Homo sapiens: one gene and its partners. The protein of the gene in region 1 interacts with the protein of each later gene in a pairwise test. Each region holds a gene or a part of one and is shown in the gene's direction. Other genes may lie near its edges. The genes, in order: CLN6, SLC22A23, KIR2DL3 and EBAG9.

Region 1 (7,256 bases):
TTAAACACAACCTGGGGACCTTCTCTCTCCCCACAGTGTGACTTCTGGTCACCCTCCCAGCTTCTTCAGCCAGATGGGGAGTGTCCTGCAGGCAATACCAGTTGACACAGAAAGACAGTCTCCATCTTCCCCCAGTGCCCCAGTCCCTTGCTGTCTGTCCTTGTGCAGCCTTCTCACTGTGCACAGTCTTGTTGCCCACACTTAGAGATCCCCTAGTCAGGCCCCTCCTGGCTGCCTCTCTCCAAAGTAACTGAGTTTTCCTGGTCCCACTTCGTCTGTCTGCCTTCTGGAGTCCCAGCCTCTGGATCCAGGATTCTGTGTGTCATGTCTCTCAGATGGTAGCTGCAGTCTAGCAGGGGCCTTCAAAGCCTTCTGGTGGCAGGGCAGTGTGGGAAGATGTTTTGAAGAAAGAGAAATTTTCAAAAGCTCTTAAGAGACTGGATAGAAAGGGTACTGGATTAGGAGTGGAGACTGGATTCTGGCCTGGCTTGGCTTCTAACTCGCTGTGTGGCTTTAGGCTTCATTTTCCGCAGCTGCAGAATGATGAAATTAGGCAAGATCAAAGGCTTTCCAGGGAGCCCTTTGGAGGTGACTTGGCCACGGCCTTGTAACCATAAGGGGAGAAGAGATGGCACCTGGGACCCTGCTTCTCTTCACTCAGGGCACCACCCCCCCCACCCCCCCGTAGGTGTTTCATACATTGAGCATGCTGGAAAGATCTTTGTCTTAGCCCAGGTTTCCAAAGAAGCAGAGCAGGGCAGCATGTATGCTAACACTGTATTGGGGAGTGTGGTGGCTGGGAAGGGGAAGTGAGGACAAGGGGGAGTGAGACAGAGGAGAAGGGAGGGCACACAAGAGAGTGCACTGCGGAGCTGGCCACCACTCCGTCTGGAAGGATGCTAGACCTTACAGGACCTTCTTTATTATTTATTTATTTATTTTGAGACTGAGCCTTGCTCTGTCGCCCAGACTAGAGTGCAGTGGCGTGATCTCGGCTCACTGCAACCTCTGCCTCCTGGGTTCATGCAATTTCTCCTGCCTCAGCCTCCCAAGTAGCTGGGATTACAGGCACATGCCACGACACCCAGTTCGTTTTTGTATTTTTAGTAGAGACAGGGTTTCACCATGTTGGTCAGGCTGGTCTTGAACTCCTGACCTCACGTGGTCCACCCACCTTGGCCTCCCAACGTGCTGGGATTACAGGTGTGAGCCACTGCGCATGGCCCAGGACCTTCTTTAAAGTGGCTGTGTGAACTCGGAACTCAGGCCAGTCTGTCCAGAAAGAGGAAGAGAGAAAAATTTATTTGCTAATCCCTGTCTCTTGCTGGTCAAAGTTCACTCCATGGAGTGTCCAACACTCCTGCACTTCTGAGGCCAAGGGTGTGGGGCCAAGGGGAGAGGAGGTGCAGTTGACTTCTGCCTGGGTGAAGTCAGTTGTCACAGCAGCTGGACAAAACAAGTGGCAAGGAGCTGGAAGACTGGTGTGTCTAACGGATCTTAGGCGATACATTTAAAAGTATCTGATACAGGCCTGGTGCAGTGGCTCACGCCTGCAATCCCAGCACTTTGAGAGACTAAGGCGGGCAGATCACAAGGTCAGTAGATCAAGACCAGCCTGGCTAACATGGTGAAACCCCGTCTCTACTAAAAATATAAAAAATTAGCCAGGCGTGGTGGTGCATGCCTGTAGTCCCAGCTACTTGGGAGGGTGAGGCAGGAGAATCACTTGAACCAGGGAGGCAGAGGTTGCAGCAAGCCGAGATCGTGCCATTGCACTCCAGCCTGGGCGACAGAGCAAGACTCCGTCTCAAAAAAAAAAAAAAATATCGGATACAGCTATAATTGAAAAGTAGTGGGAACCTCTACTAAAAGAAAAGTCAAAACCACCAAGATGCATAATACCAAAGGACCTTCTCAGCTGAAAGATTTCTTGATGCTGGCCACTGAAATTGCAGCTCAGAGAGCTGAGACTAGACTCCCTTCTGATGTGCAGGGCCCATGTTCTCAGATAATCACAAACAAGATCCTGCAAATGTGTACCCCTCAGCTTTACTCTATCCTCCTCCCCCAAATTTCCATGCAATTTAAAGAGCTAATGAAGATGGTGTTTTTAAAGTGTCCTGGTGGGATGGGAAAGAGAGGGGGCTGATAATCCCACCGGACAGGGAGAATTCTCATCTTGTTCATTCAGAAAGGCCCAGCCCCCTGCCAGGTTGGACTCCCCTCCCCTCAAGGGGTAGCAGCGGACTCCAGAAAAAAGGCAGATGTGTTTGTATTTAAGAGATTGGAGGATTAAATGAGCTAGAGAGGCTCCCTCCACACGGCCTCATCCTCTGATGGCTGGAAGCCCACCTCTGAGTGTTATTAAATCGATGATGACATCATGGGCACTGCATGCCCCTCCCTCTGGAGCCCAGCAGGCTTGCAAAGCCTGCAGAGGATAAGAAATTGGGGTCAGAGCGGGAAGCCTCAATCCTTCTTCTCTGGTGTATACCGAGATCGATGTGTAGATCAGATTCACCAGAATTAAATCTGGGGCCCCGTCTGAGTGCTGTCCTTGGCTGACCCTTGGGCACAGTACTTCAGCTCAGGGCCTAGGTTTTTCTCTGCTACAAAACAGAGACAATCACCTGTTCTCCTTACGACCTGGTGTGTGTGGATCAAATGAAACAAGGAAAGCTTTAAAGCAAATGTGTTCTTCAGGGGACCAGGGGCGGAGGGGGGGGATTGAGGTGTGGCCTGTGGGCTGCTAGAGCCCAGGATGGGGCTGATGGAAAATGACTCCCAGGCAGGCAGTCCTAGCCTCCCACAGCCAAGAAAGGACATGCAGGTTCTGACCAAAGGGGAAAGAAATAAATCCAATAAACATCTCCCAAGAAGAAAGACAGGAAAGAAAATAGAATGGAAATAGGCATAGCTCAGACCCCTCATGGTCTGGGAAGCAGACCAAGGATACTGGGCAGGGGAATGGCACATTGCATTTGCATCTGAGGCACATCCCTTCCAAGAGGCACATCCCTTCTGCAGCGGCTTGAGGGCTGGGTGAGAGGAGACAGGACTGGAGACCTGCACATGTCGTGTGCGCCTGGTGTAGCACGGGGGTGGTGGGGAGAATGGGAGTTGGTTGCAGTTGTTCTAGTTAGCGGCCTGGGCTGCTGACAGTGACCGTGGGGAGGAGAGAGTTTGTGACATTGACAGTGGTGTGGAAGGTAACCTTTCTGTGGAGGGAAACCTCAGGTCTCGAGACGGGCTATTGTAAATAACTTAGTCCACCAGTGCTGGGCTCTCTGCTAAGAGTTTCATATAGTCATCACAACTCCAATGTAGTAGATGCAATAGGCATCTTCTTGTTACAGATGAGTAAACTGAAGCTGTGAGGGGTTGAGCCATTTGCCCGCATCACAGCTAGTTCAAAGTGGTACCACTAATGAAGTCCTGGCAATCTGCCCTGCAGGCTGTTCTCAGGTTTGACCTTTGGTTCTGTTTTTCACTTGAGGATGCTGTCCCCTTAGGTTCTGTCTGTCTTGTATGCTCCGGTGACTCACGAGCCTGTCCACTGGGTTCCCAGGTCTCGCCTCAGCTTCAGACCACCGGTCCAACAGCCTTCCTGACCCACCTCAAGCTTAATGCGTTCAAAGATGAATCTTTATTTACACGAAATCTGCTCTAGCCCACTTCCCGGGGGGTGCCTCCACTATCCACCCAGGGGCAGAATCCGGCCACTGCCTGAACTCTTCTCCCCTCACCCCCCACATCCAGAGTCCCAGTCACCATACCTCTCACACGACTCTAGATGTCACCAACTCGCTCCTTCCCACTGTCACCGCCAGCCCCTCACTAGAACATCTGCAACCCACGTGCTGCACCACGCGGGTGCTACACGTGCAGGTCTCCAGTCCTGCCTCCTCTCCTCCACCCGTAAGAACAAGGGAAATCCCACAGAACCCTCTGCCCCGGGGAGCATTTAAATCAGCTTAGTCTATCTCCAGGTCGCTACCCCGCCCCAGCCCAACACCCAGGCCTCAGTCACCCTAGACAGAGATTCCCGTACCCAGGCAGGCAAGGGACCCTAACACATCCCAGCCCGCTGGTGGTCACGCGCGCAGCCCGGACAGGCCAGCAGCCCCCGCCCCGCGAGGACGCCACACTCGCAGCGCCCGGCCCTCCCCTAGCGGAGCCCGCCCCGTCTCCCTCCGCCCCGCCTCCCTCCGCTCCGCTCCGCTCCGCTCCGCCCCGCCCCGGGTCCGCAGCCCCGCCTGTTCCTCCCGAGGGCCGCGCGCTCTCGCCGGCCCGCCCCGAACCGCCCCGCGCTGGGAATTTGCGGCGGCCTCCGCCGGGGCAGCCGAGCTGAACCGGTCTCTTCCTCGGAAAGGCAGGGCCGAGGGGCCTGCGGGGCAGCCATGGAGGCGACGCGGAGGCGGCAGCACCTGGGAGCGACGGGCGGCCCAGGCGCGCAGCTGGGCGCCTCCTTCCTGCAGGCCAGGTGGGCGCGCGCCGGGGTGAGAGGGCGGGCTAGGCGCCTGTGCGCTGGGGCCTCGGGACCCGCCACGTGACGCTCCTAGGGCTGCCGGGCGGGAACCTCGTGTGCGGCGCTGGCCGGGGCGGAGCGGAGCGCGGGGGGCTTGGAGGCGCGCTACCGTGGCGGCGGTGCCCCCGCGTTTCCTTCTCTGTCTGGGGAGCCTGGGGCCCAGCGGGGCTCGGCCTCCCCGCTTCGCCGTTGCTCGGGTGGGAGGAGCGCCCGCCCGAAGTTTGGGGTTTTCCTCCCTTCCCGCGTTCCAGCGACCCGGGCTGGCGCCGGGACAGCCGCTGCGCTGGGAGAGCTCCCCAGGGCGGTGGGTACACACACCTCGTCACTCGGACCCCCAACTTATCCGCAAGTTCCGGGCGCCACCTCCGCGTTCTCGGGGTCCCTCCAGCCCTGAGTAGGACTTGATTCTGTCATTTATCAGGAGGCTGTCTGCTTGACCTGGGGCACCCAAGAATGTGCGAATGTAATGGAAGAGACAGCGGGGAAGGGCGGAAGCTGCCGTCCAGAGAATGAATGAGGAGCCCTTCTCAGTTTTTGGTTTATCTCGTTGGGCGAGCAGAGCTCCATTCTACCTTCGTCCCGTTTTACTGACCAGAAACATTCACTGCATTCAGCAGGCATTCTTTAAGCGCCTGTGGTATGCCCAGCGCTGTGCCAGGCAGTAAGGGGGTAGGCAGGGTGAAGGTGGGAGAGGCTTACGGTCCTGTAGGGATCAGGAGAGACAGAGCCCAAGTGGGAGTGAGCGGTCATCTTGGAGGGCTTCATGGAGGAAGTGGCACTTGAGCTGAGTCTCAGAGGACTTGGTAGGGGACCCAGGGAAGACAGGCTGTTCCATCCAGGGAAACAGTGGGGAAGGGCAAGGAGTTTAGTGGTGCTGGAGCTTTCCGGCTGTAAAAGAAAGTGACAGGAGGATGCAGACTGATTGTGAAGGGCCTTTAATTGCAGCAAGTCTAGGACTCGAGTTGAGGACCTAGATTGCAAAACTTAGGGGTAGGCGCACTGCCGTGACCGTGAGTGCCGCCTCAAATGTTGGGCCTTGGAGGCCTTGCTTGTCTCACCCTAGTTCCTGTCCTAGGTGACAGGTTAAGGACACAGTCTTTATCCCATAGGCACTGGGGAGTCGTGAGAAGTTTCTGAGCACTAGCATGCGCAAAGTCCTTGTTAGGAAGTTTTTGGTACGACCTGGATGAAGGGAGAAGTCTGAGCGCTTGGGCTGAGGTGAGGGATGGCTCGTTTCTGCTGCTGCGGACATGCGGGCTGAGCAGCTGCGGACTGTGTCCGTTTTCACTTAGAAACAATGTACTGGCCATAGACCGCATACTGTAGCTCACCTGTCTCCCTCGGCCTGTGAGTTAAGTATTATTTTACTGATGAGGAAATAGGCTTAGATGGGCTGAGGAGCCTGACTGGCTGAGTCCCCGGGCTGTCTGCCCCACGCCGTGTCCAGTGGTTTCATCTCTGCTGTGACCCAACCCATTTACCAGCTCCCCTCTTCCAGGCAGCCTCTTCTGCCTGCGGGATGTCTCTGTTCCGAATCCTTGCCAAGTTGGGGGTCACTGACTGCCCTGAACTGTGACAGCCCAATGGGAACAGCCTGTGGGTCTCAGATAGGGTCACCACTTTATCTCCTGTGTGGGGCTCCCATGTCTAGCATCTTACTCAGTCTTGACAATGAGCTGCCAGATGTCACTTCCAATGTACAGATGGGGAAATGGAGGCCCAAAGAGGTTACATCATTTGCTGGCAAGAACCAGGGCCTAAACCCAGGGTTTCTGACTTACGGGCTCTGCTCTTACGACTCCACTTTGGCTGCTAAGGAGTCATGTCCCTCTTCCCCTGTGTGAGCTCCCCACCAGCCAGGGTATTCCCAGGGGGGTGGTGTGAGGGTGGGAGCTCTCTGTCTCCCAGGGTGTCTCTGCCCCCCACAATGTGGCTTCAGCCCATTCCCAGTATCATTGCTGCTCAAGAGAGTAGGCAGAATCATCCTGTCCAGTTCCTAGGATGCTTGGATTTCCTCTGCTGCATCCGTGCTTTGCTCACTACCTCTTAAGGTAACCCATTCCAACGTCCACCTGCTTTGTTGCCAGTTTTTGTATTATAATGAAAGTGTTACAATTAGGCCGGGTGCCATGGCTCACGCCTGTAATCCCAGCACTTTGGGAGGCCAAGGTGGGTGGATCACTTGAGTCCAGGAGTTCGAGACCAGCCTGGCCAACATGGAGAATCCCCGTCTCTACTAAAAAATACAAAAATTATCCAGGTGTGATGGCCCATGCCTGTAATCCCAGCTACTCAGGAGGCTGAGGCACCAGGATCCCTTGAGCCTGGGAGGCGGAGGTTGTAGTGAGCCGAGATGGCGCCACTGCACTCCAGCCTGGATGACAGTGAGACTGTCTCAAAAAAAAAAAAAAGTAAAAAAAGAAAAGAAAAGAAAGTATTATAATTAGTGCCCGTGATAAATCAAATAGCAAAGGCTTCAAGTTTTAAAAAGTAGTAATCCCTGTCCCACTCTTCCCTAGCACCAGAGACAATCACCCTAGCTTCTTTTAGCTCTTTTTTCCAGAGTCAAATTCCTATTTCCAAATAATATGTTTATAACAATAAAAAACACTAGCACTTTTTATGGATCAGGCCCTGCTCTTAAGTTTTTGCATGTATTAATTAAACCACGACCCTTGAGATACGATCTACTGGCCAGGTGTGGTGGCTCATGCCTGTAATCCCAGCA
Region 2 (7,517 bases), on another chromosome or scaffold:
GTAGCTGGGACAATAGGTGCGCACCACCATGCCTAGCTAATTTTTGTATTTTTAGTAGAGATGGGGTTTCACCATGTTGGCCAGGATGGTCTTGATCTCCTGACCTCGTGATCCCCTCGGCCTCCCAAAGTGCTGGGATTACAGGCGTGAGCCACCGTGCCTGGCCCAAAGAACATTCTTAAGTACAGTAAGACAAAGATGACATCTATGATTTTCATCAAACAAAAGCCAACATCAAATTTTAGATCGATTTGCTTCACTAATTTTTTTAATTCAATAAAAGACTTCAAAATTAAATTTTGACCAAACTTTGAAAGTAACTGGGCCCTAGCCATCACATTTACAATGGAGTAGCTTTTTGCATAGAAGTCTTATCTTCACTTTTTCTGTTTTCACTTGGCCTTTTGATGAATTTGTCTTGTACTAGATGAGTAGGTAGTTTTTCTCAAGATACTACCTGTAACTTTCCTTAGGATAGATTATGTGACATTTTTATTACTTCTGTCACTTAACCAAAGTAGCTTTTTCATTTTCATTTATGATAGGTTTTGTAAATGTCAAATTTCTTGTTAAAGAGTCAGACTTGATATTCCAAAAGGCAAAGGATGATATAAATAATATTCAAGTATACACAACTAGAGTTGGAAATAATTTCAATCACTTTCTCCCACCCTCCCAAAATCAAGGTAACCTAATTTTCAAATAGTTATTTGAAAGGAAGAAATCAAGCTGCAGTTTAAAAAAAAAATGACACAGGATATTCTAAAATGTGATATATCTATCTATAATTCAAGTATAAAGACCATGAATAATCAGAGAAACCAACGTGAAATACATTTGGTATGACTTGCAGCGTACATTTAAAGTTAATTAACCCTGACTTGAATTCCTTAGAATTAACTTTTACAGAATTATAGAGGATTTAAAATTAGGTTTCCATCAATTTTAGAGGTAAGCTAAAACATTTTTTCTCCTGTTATCTCCAAGGAAATAAAACTGTTCAAATGTATTGGTGATTAGGTTATGACTTTCATTTCCTTTCCTTATTTTCTCAATTTTTAGAAAACTATAAACTGGTAGATTCTTTAACATACTTTCAAAGGAAAAGGGAATGACTCAGCTTCTTTATTAAGATCACTGGGTTCAGGATACTCACATAAATTTAGGGTCACAAACACAGCTACTTTTGGGGGCCAAATGTCATGCATGAGGGGCATGTGTCAGGCAGGGATGAGGGCAAGCTGGAGAGTGCCTGCTCATTTACTGCAGTCCAAGAAAGCACGGTCCTGCAAACATGGGGCATCAAAAGGACAATGGCTTCTGCTATGATGTTCAGAGAAGCCCAAAACACATTTTTTTCTAAGTATTCAATCTCCCAATTTTGAAATGTTAGCAATTATTTTCCTGAAAACATTGCCTATGGTCTGTGAGCTGCATTTGGCCTATAAGCCACCATCTGCAAGCCAATACTGCCCAAGAGAAGATAATATTGGGAGCTAATCCAGTAACCACAATGCCTTACAACAAGACATATAATTGTCAAATTCATTTCAAGTCTCATGTTGGCTGATCTGAGCACCATCTTTGAGAGATGAACAAACACAAAAAGGTTGCTTGATGATTTAAGAAACAAAGTAAACAGTTTGATGATTTGAATAGACAGTATCATCAAGTGATTAATAACTTGATACACTCATTTATTTGACAAAGATGTATTGAGTGCCTTGCATGTACCAGGCACTGTTTTAACCACCAAGCATACAGCTGAGCACAAGGCACCTATCCCCGAAGGTGCTTACATTCTAGAGGCAGAACGTAAATCTAACTAAGCAAACAAGAAAAATAGCAGCTGATGATAATGCTCATTCAGAAAATTAAAAACAGTAATTTTTTAACAGGTGTCTGGCTTTCCTATCCTGGTCCATGGATCTCAAACCTCACCCACTGAGGCTGTCAGAGTGTCAAATTCTTCCTCTTTACTCCTTTTGCTCACGTTATGAGATCACTTGTGGTATGTTTTAATAAATTGAAGGCCACTTTATTTTAAAGTAGTTACACTTTAATCTTCTTGACTAGATTTGGTGGAAATATCAATCCAGGAGGAATTTAGGGAAACCTCTAATCTAATCAACAGCTTAATTACAATGCCTGGGTCAGTGCTGCAGCTAGTTAATTTCAAACATTTTATGTTGCCTCCTTTTAGCTTCAGTTTTAGAGGATACCATTTTCCAGTGTGTCCCTAAATTCTAAGAATGTACCATTTGAGGATTTTTACCACCTTTTGCGAACAAAGACTAATAACATCTTCACAATGAAACTCTTTTCCTAGGGCCAGGGCTTCTCCCACGTAAAAATGCACATTAACAAACATCTTTGTAAACTCTTCCCTATAGTTGCCCCTGTATGATGAAATGGAGAAATCCGGTAATGTCCAGTCAGAAAATCTGGGTTCAAAACCAGATATTTGGCTCAGCTGGGGACCAACTCTTTGATCTGGTAGTCAGTCACCTGATCCTTGCTGTTTCTCTTTGAAAGCCCACTTCTTGGGGCGCTGAATGTGAGGACTGAGTGAGAGTGTGAATTTGAAAGCCAACTCTGAAACGCTGGCTATGATAGTTATTCTGATTGGAAGGGCCATTAAGGTCAATGGCAATGCTCCTTTTGTGATCAGTTACAAGAAAACAAATGGGTCCTTGTGACTGTGGGGGAAGGGAGGCAGAGCCAGACACAAAGTGGACCTCTTCTGGAAAATCAGCCACTGAAAGGAAAATAAATAAAATCCGTAAAGTTATATTTCAATTCAAAAAGAAATGTGGATTGTATGTAATGGCAAGAGGAGCACTGGTAATAATACATGTCTAACATTCATTGCGCACTTACTCTGTTCCAGGCATGGAGGTCAGAACTTTGCATGTATTAGCTCTTCAAATGAGGGGAGGAGAGGGAAGGAAAAGAAAAGTTAAGCTAATAAATAATGTGAAGTTGAAAAATTACCACGTACACAACGTGCACTATCGTGTCCCCCCCCGCCCCAAGCCCCCAGCTCTTTATATATGTGGTTTCCAGACCCATTTCTCAGCGGTCTGGTGTCTTTTGCAGCCCTTAGGGCCCCTTCCGCCCATTGTTATCTAATCACCCCTTCTCGGCCACGCAGGAAGGTCCACAACCTCCCCTGTCCCCCAAGACCCGCCCCCCGGCAGCCTTCAGAAATAGTTCTCTGGTACGTATGTGCCAGCATTTTATGCAGTAAACACATGTTGCCCTTAACACTGAACTGCAGGTTAAAAATGTATTCCACTAAATTGTGCAGCGGTTAGCTGAGCAAATAATGAAAATGCAAAAGAATACATTCAGTATATGGAGCTTAGAATATATCCTTTTGGAAAGCTAAACATTTTTTTTTTTTTTGCCCCAAATAAGACTAGAAATGGATTGCTCCATTTAAGACTTCCATTAATAAACTTCTCAGAATATGAAATGCCTCCAAAATGTGGGGACGCTGGGTTGAAAGGTGCCGGATAATTCTCTTTGGTGCGTGCGCTGGGTGCAGGAGGAAATATGCTAATGTAGCCGTTTGCCGCAGGGCTGGTGTTATTTATACAGCGCTGGCTGGGCAAGGTTGGCGCTGGAGCAGGAGAGGAGGGAGAGGTTTGTCTTCTTGTGTGAGAGTATAGATGTGTGCGCCTGTGCACACGGCGTTCCAAACGTGAATACAAGATCTTAGGGAGGGGGTGGGGAATGCCATCACGTTTATACTGTGTGTATTATAACTTGTGTTGGAGATATATCCCAGCATCGTGCTTACATCGCATGCACTTAGGAGTGGGGGAAGAAATGGCGATTTGGGAGTGGGTGCGGCGGGTCGCAGGTGGCCAGACACTGCGGGGGACTGGCGACCTGAAATTGGCAAAGGCGCCTCCTTGACCCTGCTCCACGGACACAAAAATCAACCTTATTCGCTCCTGGAAAAAGCGCAGAGGGTTGTTCCCGAAGGCTGAAGACCCTCGGGCTTGGGACTGGGAGCGGGGCGCGGGCAGCGGGACCGCCGGGCACCTCTGAAGAGACAGAGGTCACGGAGACCTGGCGCGCGCGGAGTGGGTGGGGGGCCCGCGCGGCTGCGGGAGCCCAGCCTCAGAGAAGACCCGGCCCACACGTTCTCAGCGCACGCCGACTTTGCCGGGACCCGTCGCCGGCCGGCGACCCCTGCTACGCGCGTCTCCTCCTCCCCCGCCCCGCCCGGCGCGAAACGGGCAACGGGCAGGGGATCCTCCAGCCAGGCGGGCCCGGGGTGTCCCGTTTCCCCCGCCCCCCTCCCGTGGATCCCGGGCGGCGGCGGCCGCGCGTCCGGGCTGGAGGGGGCGCTCGCGAGCAGGAGCCGAGCGCAGCAGGTGCCGCGGTTACCTCCACCTCGGCGGGGGGAGAGGGGGCGGGCCGGGGGGCAGGGAGGAGGGGGAGGAGGAGGAGGAGGAGGAGGAGTGGGGCCGGCTCCAGGAGCTGGAGAGCGCGGCCGGCTCGGCAGGCTGGGTCCAGAGCTCGCGGCTTCCGGGAGGCGCCCGAAGTCGGAGAAATACAGCGCGGCCACCCCGGGAGCAGCAGCCTTTGCCCGCACCGCCGCCCGCAGGGCCCTGAACCGCCGGCAAGGGCGCGGGCCGGGCGCGGCGCCGGCTCCTCCTCCTGCCGCGTCCGGCGCGGAGCAGCGGAGAGCGGCGGGCTCGGCAGCCGGCGCCCGGGCCGCGGAACTGATGAGCCGCGGCGGCTGAGGGCCCGGCCGGCCTCTGCCCGCCTCTGCCCGGCGCCCGAGCGGGGCCGCAGCGCCCGGGGCGCGGGGTCCGGCGGGTGACATGGGGGCGGCCTGACGCACCCGGAGCCGCCGAGCGCTCTCTCTCGAGCCGCGGGCCCTCCTCGGCGGCAGCGGCTGCAGGCGCCTGGCCCGGCGCGCTGTGCCCGGGGCGCCCGCGGAGCCTCCGCCGCGCTCTATGCGCCTCTGCGGGAGCCGCGGGCCCGGGCCATGGCCATAGACCGGCGGCGCGAGGCGGCGGGCGGCGGGCCTGGGCGGCAGCCGGCCCCGGCCGAGGAGAACGGCTCCCTGCCGCCCGGGGACGCGGCGGCCTCGGCGCCCCTCGGGGGACGCGCGGGCCCCGGCGGCGGCGCGGAGATCCAGCCGCTGCCCCCACTGCATCCTGGAGGCGGCCCGCACCCGAGCTGCTGCTCCGCGGCTGCGGCCCCGAGCCTCTTGTTGCTGGACTATGACGGGTCGGTGCTGCCCTTCCTCGGGGGCCTGGGCGGGGGCTATCAGAAGACCCTCGTGCTGCTCACCTGGATCCCGGCGCTGTTCATCGGCTTCAGCCAGTTCTCGGACTCGTTCCTCCTGGACCAGCCCAACTTCTGGTGCCGCGGGGCCGGCAAAGGCACCGAGCTGGCAGGGGTCACCACCACAGGCCGGGGCGGGGACATGGGCAACTGGACCAGCCTCCCCACCACCCCCTTCGCCACTGCCCCCTGGGAGGCTGCGGGCAACCGGAGCAACAGCAGCGGCGCGGACGGAGGCGACACACCACCCCTGCCATCCCCTCCGGACAAGGGGGACAACGCCTCCAACTGTGACTGCCGCGCATGGGACTACGGCATCCGCGCCGGCCTCGTCCAGAACGTGGTCAGCAAGGTAAGGGCCGCAGCCGCCCAGTCCCTCCAACCCTCTCCCTGCAGACCGAGGTCCAAGCCCGAGCCAGCGGGAGAACCGAAGTCCCCAAAGTGGTGGTGCTAGAGTGTGTGTAGGGCATTCCGCATTGGCTTAATCTCCTTCCGTCCCCCAAACCACATGCCTTTACTTGGGTGTAAAGGGAGCACCATAGCCTTTACTAGTTTGCACCCAAACTCCTGTCCCAGTACGCGGATGGAAAGCGCGCCCTTCCCCCACCCTCGGGGCGAGGCAGCTGACCTGTCACCAGCCCCCTCTGGAGGAGTCGGACTGGCGTCGTTCAAGGTCTGCTGGGGGAGTCGGGACCACAGCCCTGTTCTGCCCGGCTAGTTGTCCCTGGGTCTCCCACAAAGCAATAGTCTTCCATCTCGCACTTGATTTTGACACAGGTAAAGCCTACTAAAGAACTGGAGAGCCAGAGAAGCAAAGACTCCTGCAAATCCCCAACCCGCAGCCGATGCTTAGTCCTCCCCAAAGATATCTGACTTTAGGCTTTGCTACCCCAGTGTCTCCTCCCATGTTTTCTCAGCACTTCAGTAAACATCACTACAGTATAGGAAGGACGCGGAGAATATGTCATTTGGGTGTTCCCCGGCCGTCACCGCTCTTACACAGCAGCTGCTTTGGGCTGAGGCACTGAGAACGGGGGTGTGCTTTAGCTGAAACATGCACCTTGTCCTCTGAGTCCTGTAGCTAAAGCTCCCTTGCAGAGGTATTGCGTGGTGTGAAATGTAGCAGAAGGGAGTTGTGAGACAAGTGTGAAGGCCTAAACACAGAGTGGGCAATGGTGGACACTCAATGCCCCTAGACAGCTGTAATTTTATTCTTAACATATAAGAGATATCAAGACATTTGTAGTTTTGCTCCTTGTGTCTAAACTAATTAATTCACATTTTAAAGTAAATACAGACTCTCCTCCACCCCACCCGCTACCCATTCTGGGCTGTTCTGGCAGAGTTTTAAATGCTTTGTCGAAATGTATGAAATTGGACAGTTTTAAATAGTCAATGTGCATGTAACCTCCTCCCCCCGTGTGCATTGGTTAACAGTTGTAGCTCATGGATGTGTAAGATAAACTCTTACATCATCATAATCATTGTTTTAATCTTGTACCAACCTGGCCAGAAATGCTCTGTCCTGTGGGAACTGTCTGACTGAGCTGCCCCTGCTGCCCTGCAAGGTAATGGGGAAGGTCCTTCTAGCTGGGTTCACCTTGATCCCACCCACCTCCTACCCCCTGCTTTCTAAAGGTGTTTCTGTGACTGTTTTCCCTTCACGGAGGGCAATATTTCTTTGTTGGTTTAGCAGCAAAGAAAAATTAAGAACAATGACTATTTAAATCACTGTGTATGTCTGACAGACTGAGGATTTGGCAACATTGTTAAGTATTTCAAGTGTCTTTCTAGAGCAGAGGGAGAATAATGGATCAAAGTGAGTATGTGTGAAGAGCGCTGTGTCCTGGGGTCAAAGTAGAGGTGAACTTGAAAGTGATGAGATGGGATAGAGTGCCATTACCTTGGCAGTGAGGACCCAGGAAACAGCTATTCACACTCAGCCATGCACGGTGGGAGGAGAGAACAAAAATAGTTCTTAAAAGCAGACTATGGAGGCATATTGGAGAGCTGGGCAGTTTTTCTAAATTAGCATTCGAGAGGGTCACAGACAGCCCTCATGTGTGTGGCATGTTTTGGGTGATGCTTGATGACACGTTGCAGTTACTGGGCCAGACTGAGAGGGGAAACCTGGGAACAATAATTAGACACACATTTTCTTATACAGTAAAGCCTAGAAAGGACATATTGATTTTCACAGACAAAAA
Region 3 (7,025 bases), on another chromosome or scaffold:
AGAAGGCACAGGCATGGCAAGAGTGGCTCCCAGTCCCCACCAGGAACAGGGTGTGTGGACACTGGTGCCTGCCTTATTCATCAGTTCATACCTTCTGCCAAGGATTGCAATTCATCCAAAAGAGATTGAACCAGGCTGATAAGAGCCTGGATGTGCAGCCTATCCTGGTTCCTCTTTCACCCCCACATAAACAGCAGGAAATACATTAGTGTGAAATAGATACAACACCCCAAGAGATGAGGCTCAGCCCAGTGGGAAGGGAATCAGAGGCTACTAGAGACAGAGGGACAGAGAAGAGGGAGGGAGACAGATGGAAGGACCTGCACCAGGAGTTAAGGGCACAGAAAAGAACATGAAGACACAGAGAGGAAGGAGAGAGACAGACACCAGCAAGGGGAAGCCTCACTCATTCTAGGTGCCATGGATGGGATGATAAAGAGAGACACCTTCTAAACTCACAACCTCTCTTCCTAGGAGTCCACAGAAAACCTTCCCTCCTGGCCCACCCAGGTCCCCTGGTGAAATCAGAAGAGACAGTCATCCTGCAATGTTGGTCAGATGTCAGGTTTCAGCACTTCCTTCTGCACAGAGAAGGGAAGTTTAAGGACACTTTGCACCTCATTGGAGAGCACCATGATGGGGTCTCCAAGGCCAACTTCTCCATCGGTCCCATGATGCAAGACCTTGCAGGGACCTACAGATGCTACGGTTCTGTTACTCACTCCCCCTATCAGTTGTCAGCTCCCAGTGACCCTCTGGACATCGTCATCACAGGTGAGAGTGTCCGGACATTCTCATTGTCATTGGGATGCAGAGTGAATGATCCACGACTTGGAACCCCCAGGTAGTTGTAAGGAAGATGAGCTTGGTATTCTTATGGAGAGAGACTGACTTGCTGAGGTTTGTACCAACAGAGACAGAGAAACAGGAGACACAAGTACAGACCAGGTGTCATAACAGAGGACAGACACAGGGGCCATACAGGGAGTTAGAAAAGACAGAAAGAGTTAAAAGAGACAGACAGACAGACATGTCCCAGAGAGAGGTGTCCCTCCATGCTGACTTTGCTCACAGACCTGGCACAGGTTAGAAGTTTCATTTCTGTTTTACCTCCACAAAGTGTTCTCTACCAGGAGAACCCAAGGACACCCATATTTATGACCTGAGTTGGGCCCTGTGGCCTCAGGCCTTGTGGCACCTACAGGCCATGTTTATTCTGACACCTCTGCCTTCCATGTAATGGAGAGTAATCGTCCCAGGATATCATGGCCCCAGAACACCAACCCCTGTATGCTGTGTGAACTTGTGGTCTCCAGACTGGATTCTGTGGCTCACATTCCAAATAACCCCACATATGAAAGGATCACTGAGAGGCACAGAGAAAAATCAGGAACACCAAAAAGCAAAGACATAAACACACAGAGAATGAGCCAGAGGAAGGAGATTGAGAGACTCACAGACACATAAAGAGAGAGAAAAGAGGGCAGAGGAGTGGTGAGAATGATGGCAGGGAGCAGAGAAAAGCACTAAAATTAGAGTCCTGAGAGAGAGGCACAAGGACATAGAAACATGGAGATGTGGGGATGAATTGCAGAGATTCCAAAGAGAACTAGAGAGACCGAGAGGCAGAGCAAGACAGATGATAGATGGATAGATATAGATAGATGATAAATAGGTAGATGATAGATAATAGGTTAAAGATACATAGATGATGATTGATTGATTCATTAATAGATAATACATAGAGATGATGATGATGAAGACAGATAATACGTACAGATAGAGAGGCAGACAGAAATCATAGAGAGAGAGATGATACATACATATAAATAACAGATGATTGATGGATAGATAGACAAGTGATAGATACATAGATGATATATAGATATAGATGACAGGTAGAGAATTTGTAGATAGGCACCGAATAGATAAATAGATAGATCGACAGATAATAGATAGAAATATGCAGAAAGTTATGAACAGGACACAACGTGAGAAACTTAGAATTTAAAAAAGTAACATCAAGTCAACCAATCCAAGGAGAGTCAGAGAGAATAAAAGAATCCAAAAAGGGAAAACATATCTAGAGGTGGGGAAGCGAGGTCAGAGACCTAGAGAGACAGAGAAGGTGGAAGAAGGAAATAGACATGAAGAGAGATGGGGTGGAGGGTGAGAGAGAGAGAGAGAGAGAGCATTAGGTCATAGAGCAGGGGAGTGAGTTCTCAGCTCAGGTGAAGGGAGCTGTGACAAGGAAGATCCTCCGTAAGGAAAATGCCTCTTCTCCTCCAGGTCTATATGAGAAACCTTCTCTCTCAGCCCAGCCGGGCCCCACGGTTCTGGCAGGAGAGAGCGTGACCTTGTCCTGCAGCTCCCGGAGCTCCTATGACATGTACCATCTATCCAGGGAGGGGGAGGCCCATGAACGTAGGTTCTCTGCAGGGCCCAAGGTCAACGGAACATTCCAGGCCGACTTTCCTCTGGGCCCTGCCACCCACGGAGGAACCTACAGATGCTTCGGCTCTTTCCGTGACTCTCCATACGAGTGGTCAAACTCGAGTGACCCACTGCTTGTTTCTGTCACAGGTGAGGAAACCCCATATCTGTCTCATGTCCTATGATCCTAGAGCCTTAGCTGAGGAGCTTCCTGCTGATGATGGAGAGAAGCATGGACAGATGCAGAGAGAAGACGAAGCTTGGGTGTGAGGGAGGGATCAGGGCACAGGATGGCAGACAGGGCACCTCCAAACCCTCCTACACGGCCTGCATGAAGGCCCGCGGCCAGGGCTCCAGGCACACAGGCAGATGGAGAAAACGGTCAGGAGAGACCCAGAGGAGAGAGACTGGGCTCAGTTTGGGAAGATCAGAGGTTCCCTCAGCCCCTCAACATTACCCATTTCCCAGAAGCCCATCCTGGCCTCTCACCCACACAGGGATGTCATCACCAGCAACCCCTACACCCTTTACTTTTGTTTGAAGAAATATTTATTGAGGATAAATATACCTATATAGCTTACCACCTTTAACATTTTTTTTTTTTTTGAGGCAGAGTCTAGCTCTGTCCCCTATGCTGGAGTGCAGTGGCACAATCTCAGCTCACTGCAACTTCCGCCTCCTGGGTTCAAGTGATTCTCCTGCTTCAGCCACCTGAGTAGCTGGTGCTACAGGCGCGCACCACCACGCCAGGCTACTTTTTGTATTTTTAGTAGAGAGGGGGTTTCACCATGTTGGTCGAGCTGGTCTCCAACTCCTGACCACGTGATCCACCCGCATCTGCCTCCCAAAGTGCTGGGATTACAGGCATGAGCCACCACGCCCAGCCACATTTACCATTTTTAAGTGTAAAGTCTAGTGGTCATAAATACATTTATATATATATATATATATATATATATACACACACACACACATATATAAACATATATATATATATATATATATATATATATATATTTTTTTTTTTTTTTTTTTTTTTACCCTCCACCCTTTTATTCCTGGCCTCTGGAAGCCACCATTCTACTCTCTACCTTCATGAGATCCACCTTTTAGCTCTGTATATGGGTGAGAAATGGGAATCTTTGTAATGACTTCCAGTTCCATCCATGTGGCTGCAAATATCAGGATGTTATTCTTTCTATGGATGAGTAGTCTCCACTGTGCGTATGTACTACATTCTCTCTATCCATTCATCCACTGATGGGCAGGTAGGTTGACTCCACATCTTGGCTACTGTGAACAGTGCTGCACCAATCATACGAGTGCAGATATCACTTCGATATATTGATTTACTTTCCTTTGGATATAAACCCAGTAGTGAAATTGCTGGATACTATGAAAGTTCTCTTTTTAGTTATTCGTTTGTTGTTTTGTTTTTGTTTTTGAGACAGTTTCCCTCTGTGCCCAGGCTGGAGTACAAGTGAAGTCATCTTGGCTCATTGCAACCTCCGCCTCCTGGGTTCAAATGATTTTCCTGCCTCAGCCTCCCTAGTAGCTGGGATTACAGGTGCACGCCACCATGCCTGGCTACTTTTTGTTTTTTTTAGTATAGATGGGGTTTCCCCATGTTGGCTGGGCTGCTCTCAAACTCATGACCTCAACTGAGGTGCCCGCCTCGGTCTCCCAAAGTGCCGGGATTACAGGCATGATCCACCTCACCCAACCTCTTTTTAGTTCTTTAAAGGACTTCCACACTTTTCTCCGTAAAGGCTGTACTAATTTACACTCCTACCAACAGGGTATTAGGGTTCTCCTTTCTCTACCACTTTGGCAGGATTTCCTTTGCCTGTCTTGCAGCTAAAAGCCATTTTATTTTATTTCATTTTATTTTGAGATGGAGTTTCGCTCTTGTCACCCAGGCTGGAGTGCAGTGGTGCGATCTCGGCTCACCACAACCTCCACCTCCCAGGTTCAAGCGATTCTCCTGCCTCAGCCTCCCGAGTAGCTGGAATTACAGGCACACGCCACCACGCCCAACTAAATTTTGTATTTTTAGTAGAGACAGTGTTTCTTCATGTGGGTCAGACTGGTCTCAAACTCCCGACCTTATGAGGTTCACCCACCTCAGGCTCTCAAAGGTCTAGGATGACAGACGTGAGCCACCACGCCCGGCCTAAAATCCATTTTAATGGGGTGAGATGAAAACTCACTTTGATTTTAATTTGTGTTTCTCTGATGATGAGTGAAACTGAGCACTTTTTAGTATGTGGGGAAATTTCATGTGTTTTGCTCCTTTTTCAATTAAATCGTTTGTTTTATTGAGTTGTTTGAGCTTCTTATATTTCTAGTTATTAATCCCATCTCAGATGCATAGTTTGCACATATTTGCTCCCAATCTGTGGGTTGTCTCTTCACTTTGTTGGTTTATTTTTAGCGGTGCAGAAGTTGCTTAGTTTGAGGTAATCCCAATGGTCTATTTTTGCTTCGATTACTTGTGTTTTGAAGGTTTAAAACAAAATGTCTTCCTTCAGACAAATGTCCTGGAGCATTTCCCCAATATTTTCTTCTACGTGTTTCATAGGTTCAGGCCTTAGACTCACATCTTTAATCCATTTTCATTTGAGTTTTGTGTATAGTGACAGGTAGAGGTGCAGTTTCATTCCTCTGCATGTAGATGTCCAGGTTTCCCTGCACTGTTTATTGAAAAGACTGTCCTTTCCTGATTGTGAGTTCTTGGCACCTTTGTCAAAGTCCATTGGATGGGCTGGGCATGGTGGCTGACACCTGCAATTTCAGCACTTTGGGAGCCCAAGGCGGGTGGATCACCTGAGGCCAGGAGTTCAAGATTAGTCTGGCCGACGTGATGAAACATTGTCTCCACTAAAAATATAAAAATTAGCTGAGCATGGTGGTCAGCACCTGTAATACCACTACTCAGGAGTTTGAGGCCAGAGAATTGATTGAACCCAGGAGGCTGTGGTGGCAGTGAACCGAGATTGCACCTCTGCACTCCAGCCTGGGTGACAGAGCGAGACTCCATCTCAAAAGAAAAAAGAAAAAAACATTGGAGGTAAATGCATGGATTATATCTGTGTTCTTCATTCTGCTCCATTGTTCTACGTGCCTTTCTTTATGCCAATGTGATGCTGTTTTGCTTACTACAGCTCTGTAACATATTTTGAGATCAGGTAGTGTGATGCTCCTGTTTTCTCTTTATACCTTGAAGTCTCAAGACAGTGGGCGTCACATACAAAAATTACGGAAAAAAGGATCCCAGGACTCCCAGGGCCCAATATTAGATAACAGAGTGTTGGCCATGAACCAACCTCAAAGATTTCCATTGAGTAGAGGACAGACACCCTCATTTCCTCACCTCTCTCCTGTCTCGTGTTCTAGGAAACCCTTCAAATAGTTGGCCTTCACCCACTGAACCAAGCTCCGAAACCGGTGAGTACAGAACCCTCTTATATCCGCTTTTGGAAACCTGGGGAGGTAGAAACCTTCGATGCAGGCATTGACTCAGCATCTCGCAGCTCTGACATTGTACGCCTGTCTTCTACCATCTCCGAACTCCAGATACTCCAACAGCGAAAGGGATCTGGGCCCAACCTAGGGCTCAGTGAAATCTCTTAATCTCTCATTTTATGGAGCTGAGACCTCCTACAAGCTAGAAGAATGATTGCCAATCTGACATCCTTCTCAGGAAAAATGCAATGTTTGTTCTGCCTGCATTCCTAACTGGAGGATAAATTCCTGGGGGCTTGAGAGAGGGAAGGGAAGGGAACATCTGATGAGGGCGAGGTGTTTTAGAGAAGTTCCACTTGCCAAGGAATGAATTACTGTTGGTCATGAAGCAACCCTGGCTGACTCAGCAGAGCAACAGCCTTGCCGTAACAGAGAACGGAGCTCATGCACGCACACTTCGACTCACTGACTCATTCAGCCACGGCCCCATGCTCAGGCTGTGCAGTGCGGAACCTTTTCCTATTGTTGCCATAACAAATTTCCACAAGATTCGTGGGTGAAAACAAAACGGTTTTTTAATTATCTTACAGTGCTGTAGCTCAAAGTAGGAAGTGCATCTTACTGGGCTAAAATCAAGGTGACAGCAAGGCTGCCTTCCCTCTGAGGATTCCAGGCAAGAATCTGCTTCTCACTTATCCCAGCTTCTAAAGGCTCCCAGTTCCTTGGCTCCTGTTCCCCTTCCTCCTTCCTCAAAGCCCACAAAGACTGGTCACATCTCACATGGCATCACTCAGTGCCTTCTTCCTTACCACACCTCTTTCTCTGAATGCTGCTCTCCCTTCTTCCTTATCTTTTGAAAACTTGGGGATTCTATTGGGTTCACCAAGATGAAAATCCCTCATAATCTCCTGGAAATCATCCAGGATACCCTTGTTTTAAGTTCAGCTGATTAGCAACCGCAATTCCATCTACAATCTTCATTCCTCCTTTCCATGTAAAATAACATATTCACAAGCTATGGAGGCTAGGACAGGGACATTTTGGGGTGGGACAGCATTCTCCTGCCTTCCACAAACGGTGAACAAGATGCATTTGGCTTCTGCCCTTGGGACACTGATATTGCAGAT
Region 4 (7,025 bases), on another chromosome or scaffold:
GTTTAGCAGTTTGATAGAAGTTAATCTGGAGTTTTACCAATCCTAACCTTTTATGAGATTGTAAATTACCTTAGATACTAAGATCAAGGTCTCATTGTACACATGAAAGATAGAGATACAATGTTATTTAAAAATATAAACATCAGAGAGATTACCATTAAAATGAGAGATTAACCCTAATGGTAGATTATTTTAAAGTGAGTTATGAATTGTTTTCTTCATAGAGTGTATTTTCATTCAAAGTATGACTTAATTTTAAACGGTTTGACTTAAATGAAACTTTTTAAAGGAAAAATTTATGAAACAAGTAGACAGCTGAGGTTCTCAACCTTGGGAGCATATCAGAATCAGCTTTGGAGGTTTTTTAAAAGCACAAATGTCCAGACCCCTCCCTACCTAAGCTTTAAGCATGCTTTGATTGATTGATTATATTATCTGTTGTTGTGTAACAACTCCAAATTCAGTGACTTAAAATAATTACAAATATTAATGTAACACAGTTTCTGTGGATTGGGAATCCAGGTGACTAAACTGGGTGGTTCTAACTCAGAATTTCTCATGAGTTTGCAGACAAGTCATTGGGTTGGGGCTACAATCATCTGAAGGCTTGATTGTGGTCGAAGGATTCATTTCAAAGACAGCTCACTTCTACACCTGACAAATTAATGCTATTTGTTTGCACAAAGCCTCAGTTCCTTGCTGTGCACCTCTCCAAGGAGCTGCTTGAATTTCTTTATGATGTAACTCCTGATTTTCCCAGTAAGTTATAAGACGGTGAGAGCACTTGCTCATGGGTGAGGGTGACACCACAATGCCTTTTTGTGATGTGGTTTTATAAGTGATACACTGTCACTTCCATGTTATTTCATTAGAAGCCACTAAATCCAGCCCACATGCAAGCCTCCACCTCTTGAAGGAAGGAATGTCAAAGAATTTGTGGACATATTTTTAAATTACATCTGTCTGTCAATCTATGTATTTTATTTGTTTGTTTAAACTGCACAGTTGCTTCTGAGGTCCCTCTTCCCAGGGGACCCATGTATATGTATGTTTTTAATTCATTGAGTAAAAACACTGTTTTTACTAAAGCCAGGCCCTGTGGCATTAAAGGGTCTTTGCCTCAGAAAAATGCATTCTAGTAGGGGAGACATGATATTAAATGAATGATCACACACGTCAATATAATTACAAACTTTGATAATTCCTATGCAGTTACACGATGCTATGAACACATAACACCATAAATACTTAGCTGAATAACATAGCATTATAATGTTTTTTATTTTATATATCTCAAAATTAAATTTTATTCATAAATGTTTGATCCATATTGGTGAAATGCTTTAATCCCACCCACTGAATTAGCAATATTTGCCACCTAAATATAATTATAATACTATCATAGCTCATTGTAAAGTTTTAAATATACAACTACTTACAGAGTTGAGAAGGGGTAAATAGGGTAGATGGAGAATGTCTCCACTGCTATTTCCACGTATTTTCCTCCCAAGCAGACAGAATAAAGGGGCATTGCATAGGAGAGGATGGTAACCTATTGGACTTTGTTTTCTATACCAAAAATATCTTACCATTCATTCTACAAATTAGATTCTTCTTTTAAACTACACATTTTATTCTTTTCTAGAATTCATCATTCGTATTGTTGTGAGAGTTCTTTTATACCAAAGATAAATGTCATGTTTTATACTTTTTTAGTTTGTTAATTGGTTTGGATATTTTTGTTGGGCAGGTGTATTTAGTTTTTATGTAGACAAATCTATCAATGGTTTCCCCCTTTTCCTTTTTACTAAGGCCATCTCTACTAAAGGATCAGATACCACCCTTTTTAATGGTCTCTATAGTTTTACTTTTTAAAAAAAATCTAAATATTTTATGTACTCTAACAGTCAAATACTTTAGTGGAAGAATAGATAATATGAATGGGAAATTTACAAATAAGAAATAGACATAACCTAATTTGAAGAAAAGCTTGATCTTATTAGTGCTCAAAGTAGGCCCAGTGAGGTGTTACATGCCTGTAATCTCAGCACTTTGGGAGGCCAAGGCGGGCAGGTCACTTGAGCTCAGGAATTCGAGACCAGCCTAGGCAACATGGCGAAATCCCCCCTCTACAAAAATTAAAAAGTTAGCTGGGTGTGGTGGTGCGTGCCTGTAGTCCTCGCTACTTGGGAGGGACTGGGGTAAGAGGATTGCTTGAACCCAAGAGGTCGAGGCTGCCGTGAGCTGTGATCACACCACTACACTCCAGCCTAGGTGACAGAGTGAGACCTTGTCTCAAACAAAACAAAGTAAAATAACAAGATACAATTTTAAATCTTGTCAAATTAGTAAAGATAGAAAAGAAAGCCAGCCGAGTGCAGTGGCTCACACTTGTAATCCCAGCAATTTGGGAAATTGAGGCAGGAGGATCACTTGAGTTCAGGAGTTCAAGACCAACCTGAGCAACATAGCTAGACCTCATCTCTAAAAAAATGTAAAAAACAATCAGCCAGGTGTGGTGGCATGTGCCTATAGTCCCAGCTACTAGGGCAGCCGAGGTGGGAGGATCCCTTGAGCCCGGGAGTTTGAAGCTGCAGTGAACCATGATCACACCATGCACTCCAGCCTGGGCAACAAAGTGAAACGCTGATTCCTAAAAAAAAAAAGGGAGAAGAAAAGGCAGGATTTCTACCTACTGCGGTCAAGAGGATAACTTGGTACTTTTCAAGGCTGTCATTTGCACTTTGTTTCAGTAGCTTTAAAAATCCTCCTTTCAGAAATGTATATTAAATAATTAGAAATATTTTAAGAATTTTTAACAGAGTATGGTATTACATATATTCTCAGGAGAAGAAAACTCAAAACATTCTATTTCATTTTTAGGGGTAAGTATTTAAAACAATATGATATTAAATAAATGTGTTCACAGATTGGTACCAGTTATTTTACACACAGTCACTTCCACACCTACCTAAACAGTCCAGCATGACCATTTTCATTGGTTATTGAAAGAAAACAGTGAACTTTTAGAGGTCTGGCTTGGGAAATAGAGGTAGGGACCAGTAGATGATACCAGGTAAGAAAGACTGGGAAAAGGAAGCATGACCTAGAAGTATTTCATTAAAGATAAATTTTGCATGATTTGTCATTTTTGCCTAGGATTGAGACAGTAAGTGCCAATAAAAAATCTCCAGTAAGTTACATATGCTTAAATGAAGAATGACTGTGCTAGTTTTTGAACTTCAGCTCGCAGTTCTTCTCAGCACAGATTAGTCCAGTCAAGGATTTCTAATTCAGTCTGGGATCAGTCAGTTTCTTGTCACTCTATCCCCAGCTCCCTCATCTTACTGAGGAGAGAAAGAAACAAAAGACATGTTCTGTTCTTGTTCCTTCCAAAATAAAGTACAGCAAAGAAGAGAATTTAAGAGAGTATCCCATGAAACATAAAGAAGAAAGCTGGCCTTGCCTAGGACTGTTGAACACTGAAAGTCATACATCAGTTCTAGGCAAGCCAAAAGCAAAATCATCTGTGCCTTGTATAGGACAGGGTAAGGAAGCTGAGAAGACATAGGAGAATGACAGGTTCTGAGTTATGTGTTAAAAGATACTCTTTTTAACGGCTATGTGGAGAAAGGATGGCTTTTACTCTCTTAATTTTGTTTTACTTTTCATTGTAGTCTGAATTAGGTGACTTAGATACCTGGCAGGAAAATACCAATGCATGGGAAGAAGAAGAAGATGCAGCCTGGCAAGCAGAAGAAGTTCTGAGGTATTTGAGTGGCATTTATATTGCAACCTGAGTAGAAGAACTAGATTTCTTCCCTGCTGTGTTTCAAGTCAAGGGAGCCTATTTTGCCAAATATTATATTTTTCTTCATTTGATCCTTAGATAATAAGGACTTTTTTTTTTGTATTTCAGACTGCAGATACTATTTTATATGATTAAAACCTCACAGAAACCAAGAATTTTAAGCTCTATAGGAACAAAATAACTTTATTAATGGCAAATGGAGTGTTATATATACATGTATATAAAAGGTTTTATATATATGTTTTATATATATATATATAAGGTTATATGCATATACATACCATATTACAAGCTTGATATTCCTCTAGGTCAGAAGTTACAACTTTATTTCCATTTCCTCATGATCTAGCATAGTGCCCAGTACTGCTCATTTGAGTGAAAATAACTTATGTGACACTCTACATTTGTACATATATCTTAAATGATGTCCATGAAAGCCCTATGTGTTAGATGAACTACCCATTCTGCAAAAAAATACTATTCTGGAAGTTTTAAAGTTCATTTTTATTGGTTGTTCTTTTTTGTGTGTGAGCAGCAAACATATTTCTTAGTACTGCTACATTAGGTCAAAGAGTAAAGAGAAAATTTATCTTAAGGGAGAGCTAGTGACTGATTACTGCTTTTTAAAAGTCAGATATTTAAATGCATCTAAAGAATTCATACATTTTTTAAATTGTGTAGTAAGATACAGCAATATAAATTTTTTTATTTTAAAATTGAGATTGTTTTTACCATAGGAATAGCAGACAAATTATTCTTTATCTGACTCAACAAAAAAACTGATTTCATTTTTGTATTTTCCTTTCTTGGCTTTGTCAATAAATTACAGTTACTGTGAACAACCAGCAGAGGGTGCAGCTAAATAACTGGGAATTTTGTTTGAAGTTTTTGTTTTTTTCCTTTGAAATATATCAAGCCCTTTTTTTTTTTTTTTTTTTGCAGGTTAGGGGACGTCACATTTCAAAATTCAGTCAGTAAAATTGTGAGAGTTTTTAAAATTTAGTTCTTATTTAATCAGTATAGCTTATCTTTTATAAAGGGAATATTTTTTAAATTGTGAACTATAACACTTAGGATATTGCATGGATCATCAAAAAAGATAAATCATCTCTTTAAAATTCTGTGTTATTTTAAAAAACAAATAATAGATACAGATGTCTGAGTATTTTAAGACATTTTGGGGATTCTAGTAATTATTAGTGCCATTAACCACAAAGACAAAGGAAGGGGTCTGTCCTTTTTAAATACAGTAATCTCACTGTAGAGTTCAAGCCATGAGTTCACAAGTATCTTAATATTGTACAAAAACCTTTTCTTTTTCATTCTAGCCTCTTAACCCCTAAGCAAAACAAATGAAAAAATGTACTTAAAAACTTAATGTTTTACCCTTTAAGGACAGCTTGGGAGAGTGAGATTGTTAATCCGTAATAGACATGCTTCATGCCGCAAGTACATAGGTAGAGCCAAAGAGAAATGGAGGTGTCAGTACATTGTTACTGCCCCTGAATAGACATTGAGCATTTTAAAAGTGTATCCACATTCCGTATTGTCTAACTCTGAGCTTTTTTCCTGTTGCCACTATAAATAATGCCAGTACTGTGATCAGTATTGCTAAGAATGAAGATTCTGGTACTTTAATAATTCCCAGCATGAATCTGGATAGGTAAAATGTATTTTTGTCTGCAGCTATCTCGTAAGTTGTCTCTTTTATACTTTAGTTTTTGATACAGATTGGGTATCCCTTTCCAAAATGCTTGGGACCAGAAGTGTTTCAGATTTTGAAATTTTTGAGAGTTTAGAATATTTGTGTTCTGCTGCTAGTTCATCATCCCAAATATGAAAATCTAAAATCTGAAATGCTCCAATGAGAATTTCCTTTGAGCATCAGGTAGGCCCTCAGAAAGTTTCAGATTTTGGAGCATTTCAGATTTCGGATTTTTGTATTTGGGATGCTCAGCCCTTATATTATTTCAGCTAGTAACCAGGTCAAAACTTCGTTATCTTACTTGTTTATAACCTAGCCAGCCCTTTATAATTTTTTCTCTACCTCCCTTTTTTCTTCTGGTTTGACATTTTTAGTTCAGATTATTAGTTTTTATTGAACATCAGCAGAGTGATGAAAAACAGATTTTTTAAAACTATTCTTCAGAAATTGATAGCAAAAGTCAAAATGTTGCCAAAAATAGTTTCTTTACTTTCTTGAATTTTGGTCATCCATAACTCTGCCTACTCCTGTTTATGACTGAGAACTGTACATACATTTCACTCACTGTAGTTAATATTGAGCTCCCCCAGACATAGATAATCCACTTTGGATTTTTCTGCATATAACCTAATGTTGCCTATTCCATGCCCAATTGTGACCTGTAGCTTCCTTCCTCAACGTTGCATACTTGAATGATTTTCTCACACCCTAACCCTTCAGATCCAGGACCAATGTATGTTTACTCTGCTCTCTCCTGTTTCATCATCCCACTCCTACCTCCACTCCCTACATTAACCAATCAGTAAAGATAGAGAGAGTGAGTCTGGGTCAGTGGAGTTACGGAAAGAGTAAGGAACAGGTATGTATTTCACAAAGTATGATTAGTAAATACCTACCACTCTTTTTTTTTTTTTTTTAAACTTAAGTTCAGGGGGACATGTGCAGGATGTGCAGGTTTGTTACACAGGTAAACATGTGTCAAGGGGGTTTGTCGTACAGATATTTCATCAGCCAGGTATTAAACCTAGTATCCATTAGTTATTTTTCCTGATCCTCTCCCTCCGTCTAACCTCAGCCTTTCCGGTAGGCCCCAGTATGCATTGTTCTCCTCTATGTGTTCATGTGTTCTCATCATTTAGCGCCCACTTATAAGTGAGAACATGCAGTATTTGATTAAATACCCACCACTCTTCTCTTTGGTAGAGTTAGTCACATGTTAATCCTGAAATTTACTTGGTGGAAGGTGTATCTTAAGTTTCCATTTTCTTTTTGGAGCGTGTGTTCTGTTCAGCTGTGTTCATCATGCACTTTAAAAACTGGCTGTTTGTAACTACTATAATAACAGGAGATTATCAAGCTCAATATCAAGCTTTTCTGAATGGTATCCCCAGAAAAAGATGTGGTTCAATGGAAGTATTGTTTTACAAAATGGAGATAATCTAAATAAGAAGTGTCAGAAGATGTGAGTTCTTATCCCTGTACTTAATCCTATGACTTCGGGCAAGTCAC

Evidence for each region.
Region 2: the proteins of CLN6 (region 1) and SLC22A23 interact in binary tests that used the Homo sapiens proteins (3 or more experiments, as listed by UniProt).
Region 3: the proteins of CLN6 (region 1) and KIR2DL3 interact in binary tests that used the Homo sapiens proteins (3 or more experiments, as listed by UniProt).
Region 4: the proteins of CLN6 (region 1) and EBAG9 interact in binary tests that used the Homo sapiens proteins (3 or more experiments, as listed by UniProt).

The regions. Positions count from the first base shown.
Region 1 is NC_000015.10:68,226,729-68,233,984, reverse strand, and holds the start of CLN6 (ceroid-lipofuscinosis neuronal protein 6), read left to right. Parts: upstream 1-4,256; 5' UTR 4,257-4,400; coding exon 4,401-4,483; intron 4,484-7,256.
Region 2 is NC_000006.12:3,454,051-3,461,567, reverse strand, and holds the start of SLC22A23 (solute carrier family 22 member 23), read left to right. Parts: upstream 1-4,517; 5' UTR 4,518-5,008; coding exon 5,009-5,662; exon of another isoform or gene 5,663-5,865; intron 5,866-7,517.
Region 3 is NC_000019.10:54,741,506-54,748,530, forward strand, and holds part of KIR2DL3 (killer cell immunoglobulin-like receptor 2DL3 precursor), read left to right. Parts: intron 1-474; coding exon 475-774; intron 775-2,289; coding exon 2,290-2,583; intron 2,584-5,829; coding exon 5,830-5,880; intron 5,881-7,025. UniProt on the Homo sapiens protein: Receptor on natural killer (NK) cells for HLA-C alleles (HLA-Cw1, HLA-Cw3 and HLA-Cw7). Inhibits the activity of NK cells thus preventing cell lysis.
Region 4 is NC_000008.11:109,557,161-109,564,185, forward strand, and holds part of EBAG9 (receptor-binding cancer antigen expressed on SiSo cells), read left to right. Parts: intron 1-3,677; coding exon 3,678-3,769; intron 3,770-7,025. UniProt on the Homo sapiens protein: May participate in suppression of cell proliferation and induces apoptotic cell death through activation of interleukin-1-beta converting enzyme (ICE)-like proteases.